Linked DNA regions of Homo sapiens. The main gene of each other region encodes a partner of the protein of the gene in region 2 in a complex. Each region holds a gene or a part of one and is shown on either strand. Other genes may lie near its edges.

What was found.
Region 1: RALGAPB (region 2) and RALGAPA1 share a complex: the UniProt entries of both Homo sapiens proteins name them as parts of the heterodimeric RalGAP1 complex.

What each region holds. Positions count from the first base shown.
Region 1 is NC_000014.9:35,536,863-35,547,295, reverse strand, and holds the end of RALGAPA1 (ral GTPase-activating protein subunit alpha-1), read left to right. Parts: intron 1-3,795; exon of another isoform or gene 3,796-5,254; intron 5,255-5,266; coding exon of another isoform or gene 5,267-5,269; intron 5,270-7,605; coding exon of another isoform or gene 7,606-7,754; 3' UTR 7,755-8,940; downstream 8,941-10,433. UniProt on the Homo sapiens protein: Catalytic subunit of the heterodimeric RalGAP1 complex which acts as a GTPase activator for the Ras-like small GTPases RALA and RALB.
Region 2 is NC_000020.11:38,520,109-38,536,516, forward strand, and holds part of RALGAPB (ral GTPase-activating protein subunit beta), read left to right. Parts: intron 1-131; coding exon of another isoform or gene 132-167; intron 168-1,388; coding exon 1,389-1,590; intron 1,591-4,669; coding exon 4,670-4,837; intron 4,838-5,295; coding exon 5,296-5,410; intron 5,411-5,786; coding exon 5,787-5,934; intron 5,935-11,058; coding exon 11,059-11,123; intron 11,124-12,621; coding exon 12,622-12,751; intron 12,752-14,965; coding exon 14,966-15,099; intron 15,100-15,104; exon of another isoform or gene 15,105-16,408. UniProt on the Homo sapiens protein: Non-catalytic subunit of the heterodimeric RalGAP1 and RalGAP2 complexes which act as GTPase activators for the Ras-like small GTPases RALA and RALB.

The DNA.
Region 1 (10,433 bases), on a different chromosome or scaffold from region 2:
TACAGCAGCCAAGTCAGGGTTCTGTTGGCTTCATTTTTAATGTGTCTTACAAAATTATTGTGTAAGTTGTTTAAAATAACACTTATGATTGTCTAAATAGTAGTAAAAATGTGAATTTGAACATAAACCTAATATTGTGCTACAGATTTTTTCAGTTAATTTTTAAGAGTTGTCACTGCATTTAAGAACCATCCTCTAATTTTAATATGCACTCTGATTTTCAAAAGGGTGTTTTTGCTTGTAAATAACTTGTGCCAGTATTACTGAATACGTTTCTATATAAGTTTTTGCAGACTTTAATAGTTATGACATAAATTTTTATCAGAGTGGTTCTCAGTTCAACACAAAATAAAAATGAAATATTTACTCTTAAGAGTAGCAAAAACATAGAATCTGAAAAATAATTTTTTTCCAGTTATCTCAAATCTTAACTTTTCTGTCATAAGTCCCATACATATAGAGCTCCCTTTAAAGTTATAAGTCAAAGTGGACAGAGAAGACATAAAATAAGCTGTATAATAGCAGTTTGGACCTGACTGCTGGTTTGCAAAAATGACATAATAGTGTAAAGTTTTTAATCTTTTTCCTAGCAGAAGTATAAAATGTGTTCACCACATTGAAAAAATGGATTCATAATTGCAATTGAAAAATCAACTTTAGATATCCTGTGCACACCCTATGTATATAAAATAGTACTAATCAATACTAATATGGTCATTTGAAATTAAATTTTAAAGAAATGCCAAAATGGTGATTATATTCTGTCTAACCAACCCTATAACATAATTATATTCAGTGGAATAGTATAGAAAAATAATATTTATTATTATTATTATTATTACACTTTAAATTTTAGGGTACATGTGCACAATGTGCAGGTTAGTTACATATGTATACATGTGCCATGCTGGTGTGCTGCACCCATTAACTCGTCATTTAGCATTATTTTTTTAAGATTTCTTAATTTGGTTCAAGATTATCTAAAGCCCACTTTCTGGTTAGCGGTAACGTGCAAATCAACTGTGGTGACATTTAAATCCGAGAAAACATTTTTCCGTATTACTTTCAGTATTATTAAAATAGATATGAAAGATTTTGGTGCATCATAGTTGATCCATAAATTTCATAACTGTATTTTCTCAAAATGTACTGTCTGTGGCAGTAGACTGATACTTAAGGGAAATTATTTTTATCCCTAAGGTCATTGAGGGAAATATCGTGATGTCACACTTTGTTGATCTTTCATAACTACGTTAAAATATTATTAGATTTTTCTTGTCTTTTATTTTTAAAAAATTACAGGAAAAAATCCCTTTATCTTTGTCAGGCATGTGTGTGGAAAATATCAAAAGTTTTTAGTGACTTCTTAAAGTTTTTTCATATTTACAAATACCTCTCCTTTAATTATAAACTTTAAAATGAAATTACTGCTCTTCTTGGCCAGATTACACTGTTTGTTCATATGTACATGTTTCTCCCAATGTTATATTGTCTTTTCAATATTATCTTTTTTTATTTTGTAATAAGAGAAATTCTAGAATGACAACAAGAAACAGGATCCTGTTTTGCTGAAAGTGTATAGTAAATATTAATTGGTTTAACTTTCTCAATTTCAACATTAAAAATATACTCATAATTTTTTGGAGTATTATGTCTTTAAGTTACAGATTTTAGTTATTTACAGTTAAAGTGTTGATAGGTGTTTCTGTCTTTCTGTATTCATATACATATATATACATACACAAACATATATCTATACATACATAACACTTTTTATAATTACTTTTGGAGAATATAGGGGTTCCTATTTAAAGCAATATTATAAAATTAATAAAATTCAAATATAATTTTTATGATACCAAATTCAGAGATAATCAAGAGTGACTATGAAAACCTAGAGTAGTATCTAGTCTGCCTTCTAACCTCAGTTGTGCTGTTAATTTGCAAAATCTATATTCCCATATGTAGATAGGATGGAATTTATGATGGTCAGATCTATTTCTTTGAATCTTTGAGTGGGATGGATCATCAAAATTTAGCCATTGCTTTAGGTAACCTTTTTTAGCTCAATGTCCTTTAAAAGTTATTTAAACTACTCAGGCTTTGAAATGATCTGAAATAAAATATTTTAGCTCCTTAGAAGATAGTTATTTTATAAATATCTTAAATATTAGTAAGTGCCAACAGAAGAATTAGTTGCCTGCAATATGTAACATAAGCTATAAATCTGTTTATTTAATGGTTTGGTTTTTGTTTTTGTTTTTTTTGAGACAGAGGCTGGAGTGCAGTGGCGCAATCTTGGCTCACTGCAACCTCCACCTCCCGGGTTCAAGCAATTCTCCTGCCTCAGCCTCTCAAGTAGCTGGGATTACAGGCCCATGCCACCACTCCTGGCTGATTTTTGTATTTTTGGTAAAGACAGGATTTCACCATGTTGGCCAGGCTGATCTCAAACTCCTGACCTCAGGTAATCCACCCACCTCAGCCTCCCAAATTGCTGCGGTTACAGATTTGAGTCACCATACCTGGCTAATTAATGTTTTTAAAAACAGATTCCTACGCATATTAATTTATCATTAGATTAGCCTGAAATTATAGGCAGCCAGATATGTTCTATTTGATACTTTGAACTTGGAAATTTGGCTTATATGTTGTTGACCAAGAGGCAAGTAATAATCTTAAATAAGACCCACTAACCTTTTGTGATAACTGCTGGTTCAGTTTCCACATAGAACATTCACTGAGATGTGAAATTTTTGTAATGAAAATAATAAAATAATAATTGTGCTATTACTGAGTGCCAGACACTGTGCTCGGTACTGTACATACATTATGAAATTAAAAAATGCTTACCCAGAGTCACCTGGTACTTTGTCAAGCTAGTATTTCAACCTAGACTGATCTGATTTCAGAGGGCATGATCTTAACTATTACAGTTACCCATTTAGTCTAAATATTTTCATCCCCTTCCTGCTGTTGATAGAGAGATATTGCCCAATAACCTGTCATATTTACAAATTATAAATTGTTAAAGATTTTTATTTTAAGGGTTTTACTTTCCCACCCATTGAAAAATCTCTTTTCCCCCATATATCTTTAAGGTTGCCAGGGGAGAAGTATGAGCTTTGGAATCAAACTAATCTGGATTTAAATCCTAGTTCTGCCAGTTGTTATCCATATAAATGCAAATTAATCAATTCTCCCAATTTTTTCCTTTGTAAGGAGGAGGTAAAATATGACAAGCTTGGCCTGATTTGTTCTAAATCTAAAATACTAGTAGTTCTTGAATGTATCTTAAAATGAAACCACATGTTTGCCTTTATTTCTCTACTATTTTAAATTATGTTATTTCCTGGCCAGGCATGGTGGCTCACGCCTGTAATCCCAACCCTTTGGGAGGCTGAGGCAGGCAGATCACTTGAGGCCAAGAGTTCAAGACCAGCCTGGCCAACATGGCAAAACCCTTCTCTACTAAAAACACAAAAATTAGCTGGGCATGATGGCATGCGCCTATAATCCCAGCTACTCAGGAGGCTGAGGCAGGAGAATCACTTGAACCCGGGAGGCAGAGGCTGCAGTGAGCTGAAATCGCGCCACTGCACTCCAGCCTGGGTAACAGAGTGAGACTCCCTCTCAAAATAAAGAAATAAAAATAAAAAATAAATTGTGTTATTTCCTTTATGATATTCAGTGCCATCCATGCTAATCTTAATAACTTATCAACTCCTTTAAAAATATTAAAAGCAAGGTTATTTGGGTAGCCTTTAACCTTTAATATAAGGTTATATTTTATAGGACTATCAACATAAGAGAGGATAAATTTCCTTCAAACTAAATTTAATGGTATGTTGTGCTTTTCACATTTGAACAATAATATTTTGTATAGGTGGTCATTTTCTTCAAAAATGTTCCTCATTTCTATCCCTTCGTTTCTAATCCTCATCTGTTCTGATTCAAAATGTATCAGCTTTTATTTTTCTCTGTTTAATAGCATTATTATGTAGCTATACTTACTGTGCTCCTACTATGTGCCAATATCTTTGCATATGTAATCTTAATCCCTGGGATGACTTGACAAAATTGCAAGTATTAGCTCCATTTTACGAATACAAAAATGTCTCAAGTCAGTTTGCCCAAGATCAAACAGCTGGTAAAGTGACAGAGTCGGCATTTAATCTAGGACTGTCTAACCTATGCCCATGTTCTTTCTAACAAATCACATCGTCGCTGGAGTTCAGTATTAATTGAAATTGCTTTTAAAGATATAATATTTTATAGGGCTATATCTGCCCAATAATTAGCAGCTTTAAACCAGTCATACCTGTCACCAAACAGTACAAACGAAACCACAATAAAAAATGATCTTTTGAGCTCCCTCTTATAATCCCTATATATCCCAAAAGTCATATCCATTATGTTAATTGTAATAATAGTTTATTGTAATCAATGTGCAATATATGAATCAATTTATCCCATCAGATTACACAGTCTGTGTGAGCACTGTAAGAATGTTAGTAACAGATACGGTATGCACAAACATAGGAGCTCATGTGTACTTTTAAAACCTCATCCTTGAGGATATATTAATAATAGAAATAAATCAGCATTCTTTATGACTCAAGTAGTATAAATCAATAGGTAGAGTAGGATGTGAAATGAAATGTAGGTTGTTACTACATTTTTTACATCTAAAATTGAGGTCTTTCTACTGTAAATTATTTATAGAGTTTGGGAATGTTGAATATATACCACAAATGTAATTTGCTAAATTGTTAGGAAGTACTGATAACTATACACCACACACACTAAAAATCCTTATTTGACTCTGTTGAGTGAAGGGAGATTTCACTTTAAAGGCAGTGAGGAAGACATGGAAGAATTGTTTTTGAGGAAAATATTATTTGAGTTTGCCATAATGTAGAGCAATGCTCTCTGATAAAGCCCTCCTTCTATGGTGATGGAAATGTTCTATATCTGCACTGTCTAATGTGGAAGCCGCTAACTACATGTGGCTGTTGAACAATTGAAATGTGGCTAGTGTACTGAGGAACTGAATTTTTATTTAATTCATTTTAATTCAATAAATTTAAACTTAATGTGGCTGTGGCTACCACATTGGACAATGCAGCTCTAGAGATTTTATGTCTGAGTGATTAGGATAACATGCCAACAGTACAGTGAACACTTTAAAAGGTAGATATTTACAGAATCTCTCATAGACCTTTTTTCTTCTTTTCTTTTTTCCTATTTGAACTTGTTTTGTTAGTTGGTAAGTATAACATTTGAATTTACAAAGCATTGTCATTGTGAACCATCACCCTAATGCATTGCATGCCCAATTATATTTCATAATAAAAACCTTGATTCCTCTCTCTCTGCTCCTCAGTTAACACCTAGAAAATTCTGCACTGTGTCTCTCATATCTGTTATCTATCTTCTCTTTTGCTTTCTCACTTCTGCTTGCTACTCCATTTCTTCATTCACAACAAAGAAAGAAATGCAGTGATAGTTCTCTTCCTCCCAAAACCTCCGCTAGAAAACATTGGCCATCTCAAGGTAAACAGCAATGGGAGGGCCTCTCGTGATGGCCGGGAATGATATGCATTACCAGAAAAGCATGAGCTACTACTGCTCTTCACTTTCCTTCTGCCATCCATCTGCAGTGCTTCCCTAAAGGGGGTCATGGATTCATATTCTCCCATAAATTTTCCAGTATGGGTCTGCTATGAACCAATTCAGATCTTCAGGAAGAGTAAAGGTGAACAGAAATATGTTTCCTTCTCCTTGTATTTTGAAGGCCAGTCTTATTTCAATTAGAAAATAATGCTGGAAAAGTTACTTTGAGAAGAAGGGCAATTGACCTGGATTATGAGTGACAGAATATTTTTCCTTGGAAACATATATTTTTTCTTAAGTATAACTCTAACATTTGGTCTTAAAAACTTTTTGAAGGCCGGGTGCGGTGGCTCACGCCTGCAATCCCAGCACTTTGGGAGGCCCAGGAGGGTGGATCATGAGATCAGGAGATTGAGACCATCCTGGCCAACATGGTGAAACTCCATCTCTACTAAAATACAAAAAAATTAGCCGGGCGTGGTGGTGCGCACCTGTGGTCCCAGCTACTCAAGAGGCTGAGGCAGGGGAATCGCTTGAACCCGGGCAGTGGAGATTGCAGTGAGCCAAGATCGTGCCACTGCACTCCAGCCTGGCGACAGAGTGAGACTCCGTCTCAAAAAAAAAAAAAAAAAAAAAAAATTGAAGTGTTCTGCAAAGACATATTCTTAATTGCTTAAGACATCTCAATAGGATCTTCACCCCTTACTGAACTTTTTGTTTTTGTTTATAAACATTCAGTAACTTCAGTTTAAGCACAAAACATTTCATAGATATGAAAGTGCTAGCATAATTATTTCCTAGTTTGAAGTATCAATGAGGTGCTACATTGGCTAACAAATATGCTGAAAGTCTCCCTGTAAAGTAAGGACATGTATGTGTACAGTTAAACCTGCAACCTGTGTGGTGTTTTTGTTTGTAAAACACATAAAGAAAATTTTCATGTACTTAAGACCCAGAAAATCTGGATTAAAATGCCTTAAAATATCCAGAATCTCTTGCTGTTATTGTTTTCAGATTTTTTTTTCTGAAGGACTTTTATTTTTAATGTGATTTTAATTAATTACTCATTTTGTTTAGGAAATATTTGAAAGCCTACAGTGTGCAAGGTTCTGTAGTATTGCTGCATATTAGAGAATGATAATTTATAGAAATAAAGCACAGAGATGAAAAACTACTTTATAAATGACACAAAGAACTTTCCTATTTGATTTTGTTTTACTTCTAAAATTGTATATCTACTAATTCTACTGGTTACCTGCTTGCTTATGATTGAATAAGATACCTGCAAAAGTTTAAGTTAATGAAAACAAAAGCATTGTTTATGTCTTTTAAATTAAGACATTTTGGGGGAGTCAGTTTGCCTTTTTTTAACTGACATTCAGAGGAGAATTCTTGTCCTCCCCTCATCCACAAATTTATCTTGCTCCTTCTTAAAGCCGTCTTTAAATACCTAGCATGTATATGATCTCATAGTGCTGAGTTCCTTTTTTTGTTTTGTTTTGTTTATAAGGGCATCTAGTGAAACTGACTTCCTTTTTGAAACCCGTGGTTCCAAAACTGTTTGGAACTGTTTGGTGCTGTTTTTCAAGTTTGAGTAGTGAAGGCTCTTTTCTTGGTTGTACCCTGAATCCTAGAGATAGGAATTGGTCCTTCTCACCTGCTTCTTGACCCCTTCCCTGCATGCTGATGGTGCTTTGGATCCCTGTTCTTTCTGGCTCAAAGATTTTGCTTCCCACTGCTTTTTCCAGGGTTCTAGCCCTGGGAATGATGATTGGCGCTTTCTTGCTAATATAATGACATGAGCCACCAGATTGCTGGGTTTTAAATACATTAGTAGGCTATTGTAACAAGCAAGTTTGGGGCTTGCTTTTTCCCTCGAAAGATCTTATTAAGGGATGGGATCCTTGCTGCAGATTAGTAGCAGAAAGATTATTTCTCAGGGGATGAGAGGCTGGATAACTGTAGTAATGCTCTTGCTGTTTCCTACAGGCTCCTACCCAGAGATTCTACCCAGTGAAACTCCCACAGCAACGCAGGTAGATGGGGCTGACCTGGCCTCTCCAATGTCTCCTCGAACTAGCAAAAGCCGCATGTCCATGAAGCTGCGTCGTTCCTCTGGCTCAGCCAATAAATCCTAAGGAGACAAGCAGCCCAGCAGTGATCAGCAGTAGCCACCTTAGCACGAACATAGGGTTAACCCTTTCAGGCCTTCATGTCTGCCATAACATGCATGTTTCTTCCTGTACATTTATTTGAGAAAACACTGGATTTAAATAATTTTAAATAATTTGTAGCTTAATATTAAAGATTTAAGTTATTTATTGTTTCATTTTTTTTCCCACAATCCAAGCTGCCATATTTTGAGGGCAGGGGGAGTTTTATTCTACACCCTTTACCTTCCTAGATAATTATGTCTAAGTAGTTTTATCTTTAATTTCATGGTTAACTGTGAGCCAAAATACAATTGGACAATTAGTCTCATTATTTATTGTGCCCCATTGCAACTTTATGGTTCAATAAATATATAATTTTTTACAAATGTAAAATTTTACATTTAAGCATTTGTAAAGTTACAGCAAAAGATGTACCTGTTAATACACAGAATGTGTACAGATTATTTGTTATGACAATAAAACACTCAAAATAAATGGTCTTTAGCATCTCAAATTCCAACTGAAATCATTTTAGTATTAACTCTTCTTCCCAAAGCAATGTCTCATTTCTTGGCTGTGCAGGTGATGCCATGTTATATCCAATAACTAGAAAAATCACTGTGCTGAACTTTTATGTTTAGCTTCCAAGTATTTTTCTAATGTTTTGCATTTCAAGTGGTATCACTGTTAAATGCCATTTGTTTTCAGATTGTGGCCTTTTATTATTGGCTGCTAGATCCTGGTGTTTCTATGTTCTTTTTTAAGCACCAAAAAGAAGATGGGGAAGAAAAGAAGGAAAATTTTCTGATATAAATATGTTGTTCAAATTATGAGTATTATTTAAAAAAGAAAAAGGAACATAACCCAGGAGTCTAAGTTAAATCTAATATTGTTAATACTGAACTTGCAGGTCCAGGTTGGTATACATTCCACCCTCTAGAAGTATTTTCTTACAGTAGATAAGCTGCTCACATTTTGTTTTGAATGGGCATCTCCTGAGGAAATGTAGCATGACATTGGTACTAACTGCATGTGTAAATACATCATACTGGCAAACCGTAAAATATAAATTATGTATCATCATTCATGTAGTATCTATAATTTGTAACAGTGGGGGGGAAAGATGACATGGTATTTAATAATACAATAAAAATATTCTTATCACTTCCTATCCATGAGTGTTGATTTGTCTTCTATGTTTCATATATTTTCAATAAGCAGGGCTATATGAGTAGTGAGGAGATTTAAAGCATGAACCTAGATTATCTTAGCTAATCATCAAAAATAAACTTGAATTCCCTTTTCAAGATACATTCCAACTTATTTCTCACAGATCCTACCACAGTCGTTAAAAACACAGGAAATTTTCTGTCTTCATAAAGGCTGGCCAGAAATTCACCCAATGCAGTTGGTTAGATTGTTAGTTTATCTCAGCTTCATGTTTTTGTTTTGTTTTGTTTTGCTTTTTGAGACGGAGTCTCCCTGTCACCCAGGCTGGCGCGATCTCGGCTCACTGCAACCTCCGCCTCCCAGGTTCAAGCAGTTCTCCTACCTCAGCCTCCTGAGTAGCTGGAACTATAGGCGTGTGCCACCACGCCCGGCTAATTTTTTTGTTTTGTTTTGTTTTTTGTTTTTTGTTTTTTAGTAGAAACGGGGTTTCACCGTGTTAGCCAGGATGGTCTCCATCTCCTGACCTCGTGATCCGCCCACCTCGGCCTCCCAAAGTGCTGGGATTACAGCTTCATGTTTTTTTGATTCTTAAATTTTACTTTGTTTTATAATATACTTTCAGCAATAAAACTTCGTACTAACAAGTTTCTAAGACAATCTTTCAGAAATTCTGTGCACCCAATTTCATTTTCTTATAAATGAAAACTAAAAGTCCTATGTAAGCTGATGTAGAAGATAAACAAATGGATAGAGTCCTTGGGAAGAAGATTGAACAATGTAGACAATTTCCTACAGCCAAGGTGAAGAATTACAAAAAGGAAAATCAGAGTAACTGCATACATGTTTCTAAAGTGCTATAAAAAATCTAATGGATTGATGATATATAACAATATGGAGTAAAAATACAAACCTGAAATAATGAAATTAATTAGCACCATTAAAATACTTCTTTTCATCTTCAGGTAACACTGTTCACTAGCTTGAAATATATATATATATATATTTAAAATATGTTTTCGGTTGACATTTCTTGGGGGGGATGTCTTTTTTAGATTCAAAGACTAGTGCATATTCCTTGCTTTTTGCAGCTCAGTCTTTGCAGCCATACTTCAAAGGAAAATTTTTCATTGCATTCCTGCACCATCACATTCATTTGCAAAATATTTCCGTCTTTGTATTCTGTCCAAATGGGTCACTAACATTCTAAAACAGGATACCGACATTGGGGAGATAAGAAATGTGGCTTTGAAAATAGGCTGTGTTCAACAGGATTCTTAAGACAAACACAGAACACAACAAAAGCACAGTCTATGTACATTTATTTGGTGGTAAGCATCTTACAAATACGGGCTTTCTGTCAGGCAGTGCTCAGCCAATGTCCCAAACTGGCTAGTAGGGAATTAGTACACAATGTACACTGAAATGGTTTTTTAAAAAAATCAAAAACAAGTTGCCGCTGAAAAGAAAATACTGAATATTGAGCAAATTGCCATT
Region 2 (16,408 bases):
TAAAGCTTTTAATTTAACTTTTAAAAAGCTAAAAAGCTTCTTAATTTATTGTAAAATTTCACCATCTTTAAAGTATTTTATAATTACTACTGTCCTTTGATTTGTTTCCATTTATTTCTATTATCTTGCAGCATCTTTTATCCAAATTCTTCTTTCTTATAAATCTTGTAAGTAGGAACCAGAAGCTTCTCCTTAATTGCAGTCATGTTTTTATTTTTTTCATAATTCCATTAAAAATTTGATTGTCATTGTCTCTTGTAGTTTTTGCACTTGGGAAGAAAAATACTTTTCTGTGTTTTGAATGGGGAAGATTGTTGGCAAGAGCAAATTAATCTGCCTGAATCAGTCCCATTATTTCTGTATACTAGTCTGGTCATGTCATGAATTCCAGGACTTTGCACTAACTGTGTTTTGGCTTTTTTTTTTTTTTTTTTTTTTAAAGCTTTAAGCTTATTTTTATACAGATTTAGTGTTTGATTTGTATGCATTCTGCATGTAGTGTTTTTCAAATGTATTATTGCTGGATAGCTTATTTAGGACTAAAAATGGCTCATGGGAAGTTGCATAAAGATTTATGCTTGACTCTGTATTCTATTAAATCTATTATAAAATAATTTAAGCATTTCATGTAGAGTAATAAAAGATTTCAGAGTGATTTTCAATACACTGTGAAATCTTTTGTTAAAAATAAAAGCAACTTTCAAAGGGCTTCTGTTTCAGTGATAACAAATGACCATGATAATCTTTTTTATCAATCCAATTTTCTGATTTATCAGCCTCAAGTTAGCTGCTGTCTGTGGTTGTTAAAATTCATTCTCATTTTGCTTGGTTGAGCGATTCTTTGGTGTGTGTTTTGGAGTTGGGTGGGTGGTGGGAATGCTCTCTTTTTCTCCCTGCCCACTTCTCATCCTTACTTTGCCCTCTCCCTAAAGTATACAGACTGGCATAGGGTTGCCCATTTAATTAGGATGTCCATCTGGGGTAATGTGTAAATTGCAGTAGCTATTTTTCTTAACGTTTAAGCATCATTCTGTAGGGGGAAGAAAAAACAGAAAAGAAATAATAGAAAAGCCAAATTCTGTATTATATATCTGTATGTGGATACAGATATATACAAATGTACTCTGCTGATCAAAAATTCAGTTGAAAAATGCTTCTTGTACCATCTGTTAAACTGACAATGCCACTGTAAATTAATTGTAACCTATTTTCAAAGAAGATTTCAGAGAGCCCTTTTTAAAAATATTAAGACATAGTTGCTAAACAAAAGCACTTATTGGATTCAAGTAGCTATTTAATGACACCAATATTTGATCTTTGTGTCCAGGGTCCCATGAGCCTACGTGGCATATTGCAAATATAATAAAACCCTCCTTTTCTCTCCCCAGCCATTACAACACAAGCTAGCATGGAGTTTCGACGGAAAGGGTCACAAATGTCCACAGACACCATGGTTTCCAATCCTATGTTTGATGCAAGTGAATTTCCTGATAACTATGAAGCAGGAAGAGCTGAGGCTTGTGGGACACTGTGTAGGATTTTTTGTAGCAAGAAGACTGGAGAAGAGATTCTGCCAGCTTATTTATCCAGGTCTTGGAATTTTTGTTTGTTTTTTCATTTATATAGTTTTGATAGTGAAGCCATTGTTGGTTGGCCGACTGAACCGATGAGTGATGTTGGTCTGAAATACCTACAGATGTCTGTAAGTGATCGACATTTGCCTGAAATCTTTCATTTTACCTGTCTCATCAGATTTGGTAAAGACCCTTAAGACCCTTTTTGTTTTAGAAGTGCTATTTATGTCATCTTATTTGAATCTTTTTAATATGGAGAGATTTCGAAGGACCACAATTATTTGTTAACAAATTTTTAGCACAGTATTCCCATGTAGGCAGTCCAGAAATAAGTCAGCTGTAAATCCTGCCTCCAAGGAGCTTATTTTCTGGGCAAAGCCCCAAACAAAGCCGTGTACACATGTAACAATGATCCAGCAGGAATTAGGATATTGATGGGAGAGGCACAGATAATGTGCTGTGGGCATTCAGGGGAAGAAGCAGCGCACATTTATTTACTGTAGGGGATTCAGGAAAGAGTTTTGGGGGATTAAATGATTATGCTGGACTTATAAAGGATGAGTAGCATTTAGCCTATGTTAGAAAGTTGGTTAGGGTCATCTTCTCCAAATCTATGGCTTCAGCCATCTTTGTTAATGCCTCTGCCATCCATTCAGTTGCTCAGGCCAGAAACGAAGAGTCATTTTAGAATCCTCTTCTTCTGTATCTTTAGTTGATCAACCGATCAACCAACTCTTGCCTTCCTGCTACTTAACTCTCTTTCTGATCTCTCTTTTCACTCTATCCCCACCATTATACTTTAGACTTTGTCACTTTTCTCCTAAATTAACTCATAATGGCCTCCCGTTCTTCTTGACACTGTTTTGCCTTCCTTAACTGATCATTCACACAAGTGCAGAAGTGAGGTTAATATCAACAGAGTATTTAGATATCTGCATACTTGCTAGGTTCTCAGGAGATAGAATTAAACTGACCCTATCAGAGGGAACCAAGTACAGAATTTTATAGATATGAAAAAGAATGGTATATACAGGCAAATAGGCAGGGTTATCATAACTATCGGCGCTTGGTTTAAGCAACAGAAACCCTCTCAATCTGACTTAAGTAAAAGGAGAAGAAGTTGTGAGAAGCTAGTGATATTTATTAAATTCTAAGGTCAGGAAATGCAGTATGGCCTCATGAAGAGCAGATACTCAAGGACCAAAACAACTTTATTCCTCTCTCTTTCTCTGTCTTCCTGGTCTGCCAGAACTGCTTCATTCTTCTCTTCTCTGCAGATCATTTTCTCTTATTGTAGTGTGCTTCTGAGTTCCCAGTTTTCATTAGCCGGGCATGATGGCATTTGCCTGTAGTCCCAGCTACTCGGGAAGCTGAGGCAGAAGAATCGCTTCAACCCAGGAGGCGGAGGTTGCAGTGAGCCGAGATTGTGCCACTGCACTCCAGCCTGGGCGACAGAGTGAGACTCCGTCTCAAAAAAAAAAAAAAGTTCCCAGTTTTCATGGCCTTGGTCTAGGTGACCATCAGGACCAATTAGTATCTCTGAATTTTAATTATAGACTCCTGGGAAGGAGGATCTAATTAATCTGCCTGTCTCTGGTCTAGTCAGCTACAGTTGTGAAGGTGGGTCACATAAGGGTGTTGGAGCTCACCCACTTGTTGTGGGGGCATGTTTCTCAGGAACTCTGGGCTGGGGAGATATCCTAAATGGTACTTTGGTAGTAGGGGAGAAGGCTATCACCATGAACTTTCTGACTGAGCCATAAGACTGAATGGGTGGTAGTAGGACAAACCAAAACAACAGATTCATGAGAGGGCAAGTTATTAGTTTAGTTTTGAATCGATTGAATTTGAAGTGCCTATGGGATATTTATCAACAAATATTTATTAAGTCCTACTTTGTGCCAGATATTGTGCACAGAAGTACCATAATAATCACTAGACATCCAGATATCCAGTAAGCTTTTGGGTAATAGATCTGGAGTTCAGTTGAGAGGTGTGGGTTAGAATGATTTGATTATATTTAGTGACTTAAGAAGTGTTTAAAATCAGGTTAGTAAAAGAGAGAGCTTTGAGAACTAAGGTTGTCAGACTGAGGAACACCATCTTTAGGGGGCAGGTAGAGTAAGAGGACCTGTAAAAGAAAATGGTCATAGAAATCAGGGAAGAGCAAGGAGAGAAGGGAGTAGTTAGAGGGCTGAATGCTTTCAAAAGGCAGAATGAGTTAAGACTTAGTCATGTCTCTTGGATTTGGCAATCGAGAGCCCATTGGTTATTTGCTAGTATGGTTTTAGTTGAGTTCTAGGGAGAGAGATAGATTGAAATGGGTTGAGCAGTAACCAGTAGGTGATGAAGTTGTTTCTGAAGAGTTTTGCAGAGAAGAGAAACTCACCTCACAATAGAAGAGTATAACAGTGCAGCTGCTGTTGAATAACGGGAGATTGAATGCTTAGTAAGTTGATTAGAGGTTGGGGGTGGAGTTAAAAACTAAGCTATATTCAGGTATATTCCTAAAAGGAATCTTATTCAGGTGACCTTCATGATGAATACAGATGATCGAATGCAGGTTTCTTTCTTTCATTGTCCCCCCAAAAATAATGGGGAAGGGACAAAAATGTAAACACACCTTTTTCCCTAGGAATTACTAAATGTTGCAACATTTTTCTCTTACGGAATTTAACTCAGCAGTTCCCCCAGTTTATTGAAAAGTACTGCAGCCTGTTGTTTTGTTTTGTTCTGGTTGCCTTATTTGCAGGCCCCTAGAACTTTGAGTTGCAAGGCTTAAGGTTTGAGAAGGTGCAACAGACATGAATTTTTTTTTTTCTTCATTAAGAAAGATGATTTGGGTCTTAGTGTATATGATTCAGAATTGTTCTAATTCCAGTAATATCCTTTAAAGGGTAAAATTCCAGTAATTCCAGTAATAACTTTTAAAGGGTAAAATTCTAATAAATTCCAGTAATTCCAATAATGTCCTTTCTTTAAAGGGTAAAAATAGTGATGAGTGGAAATAGACTTTCAGTTAACTATGTAGCAAATAATAATTATGAAAACTTTTGATCAGCAGTTTGTTTAAAATTTTTTTCTTGCTTTCCTAGATTTTACATGCTTTTAATTCAAGGTTTGCAGATAAATGATTATGTGTGCCATCCTGTCTTGGCCAGCGTTATTCTAAACTCTCCTCCTTTGTTCTGCTGTGACTTGAAAGGGATTGATGTTGTGGTTCCTTACTTTATTTCAGCTCTTGAAACCATTTTGCCTGACAGGTAAGCTATCATTCTCTGCTATTATATCAACTGTCTGATTTGGCCTGGTCTGTTGGTGCTTCCTCCCCAGTTTCCTAATGTATCCTGTCCAGTTGTCTTCATAGTCCAAGAGAACTCAGGCGACATTAAATGAGTGTAGTGTGTCCAAACCCACCTCATCCCTGAAATCCTTCAGTTCTCATTTGTCTGTGGGCTTGTTGAATCGTTTTTGGCCTGGTCTAGAAGGGTAAGAACAACTCCAACACAGAGGTCTTACCTTTGTAGAGTAGGCCTTACGTTTTAGGTAAAGAAATCAATCAATCAACTTCTAGTTTAATTCAGTAACAGTTTAACTTAGAAATATACAATATACAAATACACAATGCTTGGATTTGGAAAAATTGGCATTATATGTATTTGGCAGTAGCTAAAAATGTGCTTTAGTTCAAAAATACTAATAGCTTTTTATTTTTTGGCAGAGAACTCTCAAAATTCAAAAGCTATGTAAATCCAACAGAATTGCGAAGATCCTCCATTAATATCCTGCTTTCTTTGTTGCCCCTCCCTCATCATTTTGGCACAGTCAAATCTGAGGTAATGTTTTGTTAAAGTTTTTTTATATCCTATATTCTGTTTTTTGTACTAATTTAAGTCAAATCGAATGTTAAAAATGAAACAGGAGCTTTTTTTATTTTTCAATTCAAGTTATTTCATCAAGTTATTTCAAGTGAATTAACAAAGTTGACTTGTGATTTTTTTTTTTTGTTCTGTCAGTTTTTCTACCAGTTTTCAAGCAGTTATAGGCTAAGGACATCTATTAACATATTGTTAGTGACAGATTCAGCACAGTGGCTAATATTAGACTGAAAGCCTTTCTCATTATACTGATCCGTTCCTCCATCTAGCTGTTCCCACATGGGCATCATAAGCTGCAACAGCTGATGTTAAATATTATTTGTTTTTTCCATAGGTGGTCCTGGAAGGAAAGTTTAGTAACGATGACAGCTCTTCTTATGATAAACCAATAACTTTTCTGTCCCTGAAGTTGAGACTTGTGAATATATTAATAGGTGCCTTGCAAACTGAAACGGACCCCAACAACACCCAAATGATATTAGGTTTGTATTCACACGTTATTTTGTAAGTGAAACCAAAGTACTGTTGACTACAGGCCTGCTGAGGAGGCGGCAGTCGGTAATGGGAGCCTAAACCTAATGTAGCTCTACTTACTCTGAATCAGAGGCACAAGTTAGTTTTTTAATGTAAAAAAATTTAAAGCAGTGAGATGAGGGAAGTAAAGTGTTACAGTTGTCTTGGTTGGTCATTTATTTGTGCTTTTGCTTTTCTTTCTCTTCTCCCTTCTCTCCTTTCTCCACTCTTTGCCTCTCCTTCCCATCCCTCTCTTCTTTCCTCCTTTCTTCCTGCTCTCCTTCCTCCTGCCTCTTTCTCTTCCTCCCGCCTCGTCCTCTTCCTCCTGCCTCTTCCTCTTCTTCTTGCCTCTTCCTCTTACTCCTGCCCATTACTTACAGGTCTCATCAGTCTGCACTTTCGTCCTAGTCCTTTTTTTCTCAAACACATCAGCTAATGATTTCTTCAGAACCTTACTTTATATCCCTCCTGCTGGGGTGTTCTTTCCCTAGATTTTTGTTTAGCTTTTCTTCATCATCTTCTTAAGAGAGAGCTTCCCTAACAATACTTGCTAAAGATTATCTTATTTCATCATTTTTTTCACAACACAAAACCTGAAATTATCTTGTTTGCTTAAATGCTTAAACTCCCCGCTTTTTACATGTTTTTCAAAATATATCATAAGGTATTTGGTGATTGACAAATCTAGTGTTAGCACTAAGGGACAGTCTTATCTCCCTGAAAATCTTCAGAGAGACCCTGATGAACAGAGGAGCTCTTCTTTTCTTCCTCTAATCTGATGTTCAAATTGGGTAAACAGCAATGTATTACATTTGAAAGCAAAGGGTTTTCAGTTGTTGCTTCTGTGTCTCAGTGCCACTAAAGTGCAATCCTGGGTATTGAGATCACCACCCTTGACAGTGGAAGCTCTTAGGAAAGTAGGGCTTTCCTCAGCCACCTAACAGGAGTCCCCACTGAACCATGTGAATGCAAATACCATCCCAGCCCACAAACCTGGGTGGCAGTTAGAACTCCCCGCTTATGGAGCAATTGATCTCTGAGGATGACTTGACCTTGGCAGTGGTTAGAGGCTTTCTTTCTTCTCTTCATTAGCAAGACTAGAATTCAGCTTCTTCCTAGCATCTTAGATTTTTATCTGTTCAAAAGTGGGATCAGACATTCCCTTTAAGCCCTTATGCCCCCAGAGGAGGTGGGGTGTATGTCCTTCCAACAGGAACACAATCCTTGAAATGGTTTCTAAAAGGCCTCTAAAACTGAGGGACAGATCCTGAAGAGATGGGTCACAACGGCCAAGAACCATATTTATCCAGAGACACCTAATTAGTAGGTGACTGGAGTTGTCTGTAGCTGGGCAAAAAGTTTTTTAGGGTTTCGTAAGTCTCAAAAGCCATTAATTGTGGACATGATTTTCTAGACTCACAAATGGAGTTTTTTGCTCTTTACATTCTCAGTTATGATGTATAGCTATATTCTTGTTCAGGCTGGGCTTTTAGAGACCTTCTGAAGTTAATGTGGTCAGTCTGACCAAGGTTTGGAACCAGAGTCTACCAGTGGCATTGATAATATCTCAGATACATTCTGAACACAGAGGGTGGTTTATGTGGAGGGGGATGTTTTGATATGTGAGAACCTCCAAGTTACAATGTTTTAGGTTATTTAAATAACATAATTTTGCTTGAAATTATATAATTTCTACGATTGAAGCAGTATTTGGTTTTGTTACACCCTTGCTCTGAGGCACTCCCTATGTACTTTCCAAGGAAGAGTCAGTTGTTACTCTTGCCATAAAGTGGCAAAGCTCTTTCCATCTTCTCTTTATCCATAGTGGGCAAGAGTACCTCCCACGGGGATGAGAAGCAGTGTGTTAGGCTCACCATCTCATTTCTGTCCTAGCCTTTCCAGGACAATGGTTTCCTTGATAATAAATAAATGAAGCTTACTTCAGGGTATGCAGATGTCAACAAGCCCCAGACTGTGTGGCTTTAATCATTCTTAAAAAGCAGTGTGGTCAGAAAGCTATTGCTGTGACTTTATTTTGTAATTTTTGTTTTATTTATTTGTTTCTTTTTCCCTGTAGAAAAAACAGACAGTAATGTTTGTTTTATTTTTAAGACTAGAACCTAGTTTTGAAAGTATTCCATAATATTTTCCTTAGTTTATATTACCCTTGAAATTGAGATGCTTACATCTGGTCTTTTACACCAGTTAAAAAATATCTGATAATGAGCATGTTTTTATATAAAGCAAGTTTGACCTTCACATTCATTTTATTTTTATTTATTTATTTATTTATTTATTTATTTATTTATTTATTTAAATACAAGTTCTTGCTCTGTTGCCCAGGCTGGAGCGCAGTGGTGCAATCATGGGTCACTGCAGCCCAAGCTCCTGGACTCAAGTGATTCTTCTGCCGCAACCTCTGAAGTAGCTGGGACCACAGGCGTGTGCCACCACACCTGGCTAATTTTTTGTTGTTGTTAGAATAGGGTCTTGCTCTGTTGCCCAGGCTGGTCTCGGACTTCTGGGCTTCTCCAGTCCTCCCTCCTTAGCCTCCCAAAATGCTGGGATTACAGGTGTGAGCCACTGTGCCTGGCCCACATTTATTTTAGGGAATTTTTTTTTTTTGAGATGGAGTCTCGCTGTGTCACCCAGGCTAGAGGGCAGTGGCATGATCTTGGCTTATTGCAACCTCTGCCTCCTGGGTTCAAGCAATTCTTCCACCTCACCCTCCTGAGTACCTGGGATTACTGGCACCCGCCACCACGCCCAGCTAATTTTTGTATTTTTTAGTAGACACAGGATTTTACCATGTTGGCCAAGCTGGTCTTGAACTCCTGATAGCAAATGATCTACCTGCCTTACCCTTCCAAAGTGCTGGGATTATAGGCATGAACCAATGCACCTGGCCAGAATTAAGGAATTTTTAAAGAGTCTCTTCTGACCAATCAGTGGATTTATTAGTAGAGTTGACCCTTGAACAACATGGGTGTTAGTGATGCCAATTCCCTGAGTAGTTGAGATCCACATATAACTTTTTGATTCCCTAAAAACTTAACTACTGATAGCCTACTGTTGACCAGAAACCTTACCCATACCAGTTGATTAACACATATTTTGTATTTTATGCATATTATTAATATATACTGCATTTTTACAATAAAGTATGCTGGAGAAAAGAATATTTTATTAAGAAATACATGTTGTAATCCCAGCATTTTGGGAAGCTGAGGTGGGTGACTCACGAGACCACCCTGGCCAGCATGGTGAAACCCTGTATCTACTAAAAATACAAAAATTAGCAGGGTGTGATGGCACATGCCTGTAGTCTCAGCTACTTGGGAGGCTGAGATAGGAGAATGTTTGAACACGGGAGGCGGAGGTTGCAGTGAGCCAAGATCATGCCATTGCACTGCAGCCTGGGCAATAAGAGCGAAACTCCGTCTCAAAAAAAAAAAATAAAATAAAAATAAAAATAAAGCTTGGGCGTGGTGGCTCATGCCTGTAATCCCAGAACTTTGGGAGGCCGAGGTGGGTGGATCACGAGGTGAGGAGTTCAAGACCAGCCTGGCCAAGATGGTGAAACCCCGTCTCTACTCAAAATACAAAAAAGAAAAAAAAAATTAGCCAGGCGTGGTGGCAGGCGCCTGTAATTCCAGCTACTCGGAGGCCGAGGCAGAGAATTGCTTGAACCCGGGAGGTGGAGGTTGCAGTGAGCCAAGATCACGCTACTGGACTCCAGCCTGGGTGACGGAGTGAGGCTCCATCTCAAAAAAAAGAAAATCATAAGGAAGAGAAAATACATTTACAGTACTGTATTTATTGATACCATAAATTGTCTGTTTATAAGATAAATCGTCTCAACTGTTGGGCAGTTGTAGCTGTAGACCCCAATCTACAGTACATATCAAGCAACTCAGCTTTTTCTTGTAATGTCATGACTTTTCTCTGCTTCTTGGGAGCACTTCCAGCATCACTAGTGGCACTTCCTATGGGTCCCATGGCGTTAGTCAAGGTTCATGGTGTTGCAGTAAACATGATGAAAACATGTGAGAACCATGGTATGCAATTTACTGCAGTGTTCAGTCTGTTAGAGAGATGAACTACTCACATGGAGATGGTTAGCATCACATTGTATTTTAAGCAGCATACTCATTAACACTTGAGCTCACCCCAGTAACAACAGGAGGAGGCTACAAAATGATTACAGTAGTGCAGTATGTACTACAGCTAATTTTATACAGTTATTTAATACTACATCTTTGTTTACATTTCTCTGGACTGCAAATGGCATCATGTATGGTCTGTAAGTGTTTGTGTACGTAAGTTTTTTGATAAATTTTAGCTTTTTATTTTTTATTTATTTTTAGAGACAGGGTCTTGCTTTGTTGCCCACTCTGGTCTCAAACTCCTAGGACTTCAAGCAATCCTGCTGACTCGGCCTCCCAAAGTGCTAGAATTACAGGCATGAGCTAGTATGCCCGGCCAATTTTAACTTTTTATACTTTTTTAAATATTTCTTTTCTTTCTCTTTTTTTTTTTTTGAGATGAAGTCTCGCTCTGTTGTCCAGGCTGGAGAGCAGTGGTGCAATTTCGGCTCACTGCAACCTCCACCTCCCAGGTTCAAGCAATTCCCCTGCCTCAGCCTCCTGAGTAGCTGAGATTACAGGCGCACACCACCATACCCGGCTAATTTTTGTATTTTTAGTAGAGATGGGGTTTCACCATGTTGACCAGGCTAGTCTCGAACTCTTGACCTCCCGCCCCACTTCGGCCACCCAAAGTGCTGGGATTATAGGCATGAACCACTGTGCCTGGCCATTTTTTTTTTTTTTTAATATTTCTAGGCTATGCAGTTTGGGAGTTTTTTCAAATTGTCACAGATCTCCAAAAAACTTTCTAACATGTTTATTGAAAAAAACCTGCATATGTACAGTTCAAGCTCTTGTTTAAGAGCCAACTATAATTTCATGGGTATTTCAGGAATGCTCAACCAAAATTATATTCTTATCTGTACTATTAATCATATAAAATGTCTTACGCATTTTAGTGTTCTTGTGTATTTTATATAAAATACTGTTTTATTGTTGTTGTAGGGGCAATGTTAAATATTGTTCAAGATTCAGCACTTTTGGAAGCCATTGGTTGCCAGATGGAGATGGTAAGAAGCATACATGCAATCTGTCAGAGAATATCACTTTTGAATTTCATGTAAATTATATTCCAGAATGTCCATCTTTGTGAATTTTAAAGGCCTTTGGTTTGTAAATCCTGCTCATTGGCTCAGAAGTTTTCTTTTTAAAAATAATGTATATTTTGAGGTTTGCTTTTCAGTGCCTCTTCAGCTGTACATCAGGTTCCCGAGATATTCTGTATGAGAGAAACTACAGCTAAATCCAGTCTTTATTCCTGAACAGTGTCTGCTTAAAACTGTTACTTGTTTTGCTGTGGTGGCAAACTTGGTTGAATAACCTAGGAAAAGCCCTAGCCAGCAAGCAACTAGTTTAACTTTTTCTTACCCATCAATTCTTTCTAACCCCTCTAGACCTAAGTTTGCAGGTCCCTCAAAGCACCAATGCTTCCAAATCAAAAATGCTTCTCAGAGACTTCCAGTGCTCTCTGCTTTGTCTTCAAGATATATCATCCCTATACTTGGAGTATAGGCAAGACAATGGAGGGGTTAATAGGGTATACTGGGGTAAGTTGGGTAGATGTAGTAAGCTGAGTAGATGTAAGATGGGTGATCAAATTATTATTACGGAAATTACATTCGTGTCTCAGTAGATGGTGAATAATAATTTACTGATCTGAATATAATGAACTGTGTTTATATGGGGAAAAATGAGGGAAGTCTAACAGATAGGTTTATTAGCCCCTATACATACGGGAGTTAAAACTAACCCTAGTATTGTTTGTGTTTTCTGATATAACTGTATTTGAAAGTTGCCGTTTGTTTATTCATGCCTTTTTGTTTTTTGTTTTGTTTTGTTTTGCTTTGGTTTTGAGACAGAGTCTCGCTCTGACTCCCAGGCTTGAGTGCAGTGGCGCAATCTCTGCTCGCTGCAAACTCCGCCTCCCAGGTTCCTGCCATTCTTCTGCCTCAGCCTCCCGAGTAGCTGGGACTACAGGCGCCTGCCACTGCGCCCGGCTAATTTTTTTGTATTTTTTAATAGAGATGGGGTTTCACTGTGTTAGCCAGGATGGTCTCGATCTCCTGACCTCGTGATCCGCCTGCCTCGGCCTCCCAAAGTGCCGGGATTACAGGTGTGAGCCAGCGCGCCTGGCCTTATTCATGCTTTTTAAGCTTATATTTCTGTTCTGAGGTTTTGCTTGGGAGGCACTAGGGTATTCTTTTTAAGGACCTGGAATCTAGTGAAGTCTAGTAAAGATGAAAAAGCTGGGCCAGCCCTTTGTAAATAGTGGCAAAGAAGACCCCAGTATGGGCACTTGTAGTAGTACAAATCCTTCATACCCTCCAGTAGATTTGTGTGTGTAAAAATACCACAGTGGTTTTAATCCCTTGTCAATTTCTGTTACTATCAGTTTGTACTATTCAGTTGGCACATTCTGCTTTATCAACATGGTTTTTAATGATTGACCTTTATTTATGCTTGTAAACTGTGATGTAATCCTCACTTGATTCATTTTCATTTGACTAGGGTGGTGGAGAAAATAACCTGAAGAGTCATAGTCGCACCAATAGTGGTATTAGTTCAGCAAGTGGTGGAAGCACGGAGCCCACGACTCCCGATAGTGAGAGACCTGCTCAAGCTCTCTTAAGAGATTATGGTTAGTCGTGTTTCTTTTGAAATTCAAAGTTTAATAGAATGACTTTAATGCTTACATTTATAAAACAAAAACATTAAAAATGTTAATGTTCATGTTTTTTATATACTTAAGTATAATAGAGAGGATGTCAGTCTTAAGAAGCTAAGAAAAAACAAATCTTTTTGATTTAGCTGTATAGCTTTTGGGTAGTATATTAGATTTGGGGTAGTATATTAGGTTTTATAATTGATAGTAATGGGTGATCAGTAAACATTTCTGAATTCTCTACCATGTGTGGTGGTAGAGAACCAAATAAGATGTGGACTCTGCCTCAGAGCTCACAGTGTAGTGGCAGAGATGTCCAATAAGCCAGTTATTGCAGTGTGGCAAGGAGGGTAATGGGGGATGGATTAGATAGCAGCCCAGAGGAGAGCATGTCTTCATGTTAAAACCTGTGTACCCCCTACTGTAGCTCACTAGATTCTTTAGCCCTGAAACATTTTTATTTTCTGCCCTGCCAAGTAAAACATTTGCCAGCCAAGCATCCTATACAAGGTTGTCCCCTACCTTGGGCAGTTGTTTTATGGATTCTGTGAGTTTGTGGGTACCTTTATGTTTTTCTACACAAGTACTAACAGTGTATTAAATCTGTGAGCACTTATCCAGCTAGATTGGAGTGATATCTAGATTCTTAGATGTGAGTTTAATCCTTTAATCATCTGGAGAGTTCATGAGCCATGTTCATGAGGTTCATGAGGCATGTCATGAGCCATGTTCATGAGTTCATGAATTCATGAGGCATGTTTCTATGGTTTAAGTTTGCAACAAGTATCCTTGAACATGTCAGATATACATAAAGCCATTATGTGGATATTTGACACATTTAAATATTATATTCGTGAAGAAGTTATTTAAATTATCTTATTCACTGTGTATGTAGATTTAGGTATTCTATAGGTTGAAAATTATTTTTCATGCTTTCTGAAACACATTTAAGCTAAATAAATTTTTCAGTACTGGCTGGGCGCAGTGGCTCACTCCTGTAATCCCAGCACTTTGGGAGGCCAAGGTGGGCGGATCACCTGAGGTCAGGAGTTCGAGACCAGCCTGGCCAACGTGGTGAAACCCCATCTCTACTAAAAATACAAAAATTAGCTGGGGGTGGGGGTGGGTGCCTGTAATCCCAGTTACTCTGGAGGCCAAGGTAGGAGACTCTCTTGAACCTGGGAGGCAGAGGTTGCAGTGAGCCAAGATTGCGCCACTGTACTCCAGCCTGGGCAACAGAGCGAGACTCCATCTCAAAAAAAAAAAAAAAAAACAGAAAACAAAAACAAAAAAAGAAATTTTTCATTACTGCATGTGTTCTAATATAAATGTTTTAAGTGATTATTGTTTGTTTCAGCATTTTGAGCTGGTGTTAGTGAGCTCTGCTTGTAATGTCGTAAAATATTTTTTACTAAGAAATCCTGATTTGTGTTAGTGTCGCATGAGTGTCTCTCTTTAATGATCATTCCTTTTTCTGTTGTCACTGCCCTCTTTCTGATAGGATCGACAGGTATAATGTCCCTAAAGCTTCCTTTATAAATTCAGTTTAATTTGTCTTTATTTAATTTTTCCTAATTTCCTATTAGCTAACTAGTGATTGCTTTTACATATAGATTGGAGCCCAAATAAAAATATGGTGGCTTGGTTATTTAATTTTTTTAGAAGTATTAAAGTAATCCTGGAGAATTAAATGTTAAAGTATGTTTGAAAAGGCATTGCATGTGAGTTTTGATGGCTTAAACCCTGTAAGTAATTTCAACAGATGCTTGCTTCAGAGTAATTCCTAGCATCTGAGGAGGCCGTAAAATTAGAACTTTCCTCTGTAAAGTTTCAAGGAAATAATTGATAGCCTTTTCATCACTCTTTTTGAAAATGTAGCTATGAGTTGATAATTTAGAAACTTTAAATTACGTTGTTATGAAAATGACACTGAAACTGCCAAATCCCACGGTTGTGTCAAAGTGCGTGAACCAGGAACTAGAAGCTGCTCTGGTCTAGCACATGTGCCTGTGCACCGTGTAGTCAGGCTTGGCACTCAACCCAGTGGGGTGGGGAGCGTAGCACTGTGTGGGTGCCCGTCGTTCTCACTGTGGCTGCTGTGGTCTGTGCCTAGTGGATGCTGTGCTTCTCGTTACTAATGCTTAGTTGTTTTCCCTCCCTGTGGGATGTGGCATTGGGGTTATATCCTAGCTCTTAATACAGATTCAGCTGCTGGGCTCCTGATTCGCAGCATTCATCTCGTCACCCAAAGACTCAACTCCCAGTGGCGCCAAGACATGAGCATATCACTGGCAGCTCTAGAGCTCCTCTCTGGCCTTGCAAAGGTGAGGAAGACAGTCCTTTTATTTTAACCCAACAGCCTTGGGCCTTGGCTGTTTTTTCTGTATCTCTTAACCCCTTGTGTGGGTATTTTAGTGTTGATCATGCTCAAACATAGTTTATATTATATCCAAAGTGTACAAAATTTAGCCTCCAAGTGATATTCTATGCAATGAACTTTACTTTTTAAAAATAGGTTCAAAGAGTATGAATGAGATTTTTACCGTTAAATTATAGGAAACATTTCAATACTTGCCATTTATTTATTTGCATATAATACTAGAATGCATATTGATTTTGTAAAAAATGATTATCCTAATGTATGCCATTTGGGATTACCTGTGGCTCTGCCATCCTCCATTATCAGAGATAAGTGAAAACTGGCTACACCTTTTTTTTTTTTTTTTTGAGACGGAGTCTTGCTCTGTCGCCCAGTCTGTAGCGTAGTCGTGCAAACTTGTTGCACTGCAGCCTCCGCTTCCAAGCAATCCCCCTGCCTCAGCCTCCAACTAGCTGGGATTACAGGCATACGCCATCACAGCCAGCTAATTTTTGTGTTTTTAGTAGAGATGGGGTTTCACCATGTTGGCCAGGCTGATCTCGAACTTCTGACCTCAGGTGATCCACCCGCCTTGGCCTCCCAAAGTGCTAGGATTCCAGGTGTGAGCTACTGCACCTGGCCTTGGCTACACTTTTTAGATTTCTTTCCCAGCCGTTACTTCAGTTTTTTGGAAACTTAGAACTTGGTGGTCATTTGTGCTTCTCTAAGTGTATTCTTTTGAGATGAAATTTGTGTAATATAAAATTAGCCATTTAAAAGCAAACAATTCAGTGACTGTTGGTACATTCACAATGTTGAGCAACTTCTACTTCTAGTTCCAAAATGTTTTTATCATCCCTAAAGGAAACCCCATACCCATGAAGCAGTTTTGCTTCAGTCTCCGCACCCCCTCCTCTGACAACCACCATTTCATCTCAATGGGTCTACCTATACTGGACATTTCATATAAATGGAATCATACAATGTGTGACCTTTTGTGTCTGGTTTCTTTCACTAAATGTAATGTTTTTGAGTTTCATTTATGTTGTAGAATGTGTCAGAACTGTATTCCCTTTTATGATTGGATAATATTTCATTGTGTGTATATACCCCAGTTTACCCATTTATCACTTGATGGACATTTGGGTTGTTTTAATCTCTAGGCTGTTGTCAGTAGTGCTGCTGTGAACATGTATGTACATGTATTTGTTTGAATACCAGTTTTCAGTTCTTCGGGTGTACACTAGGAGCAGAATTACTGGGTCATATGGTAA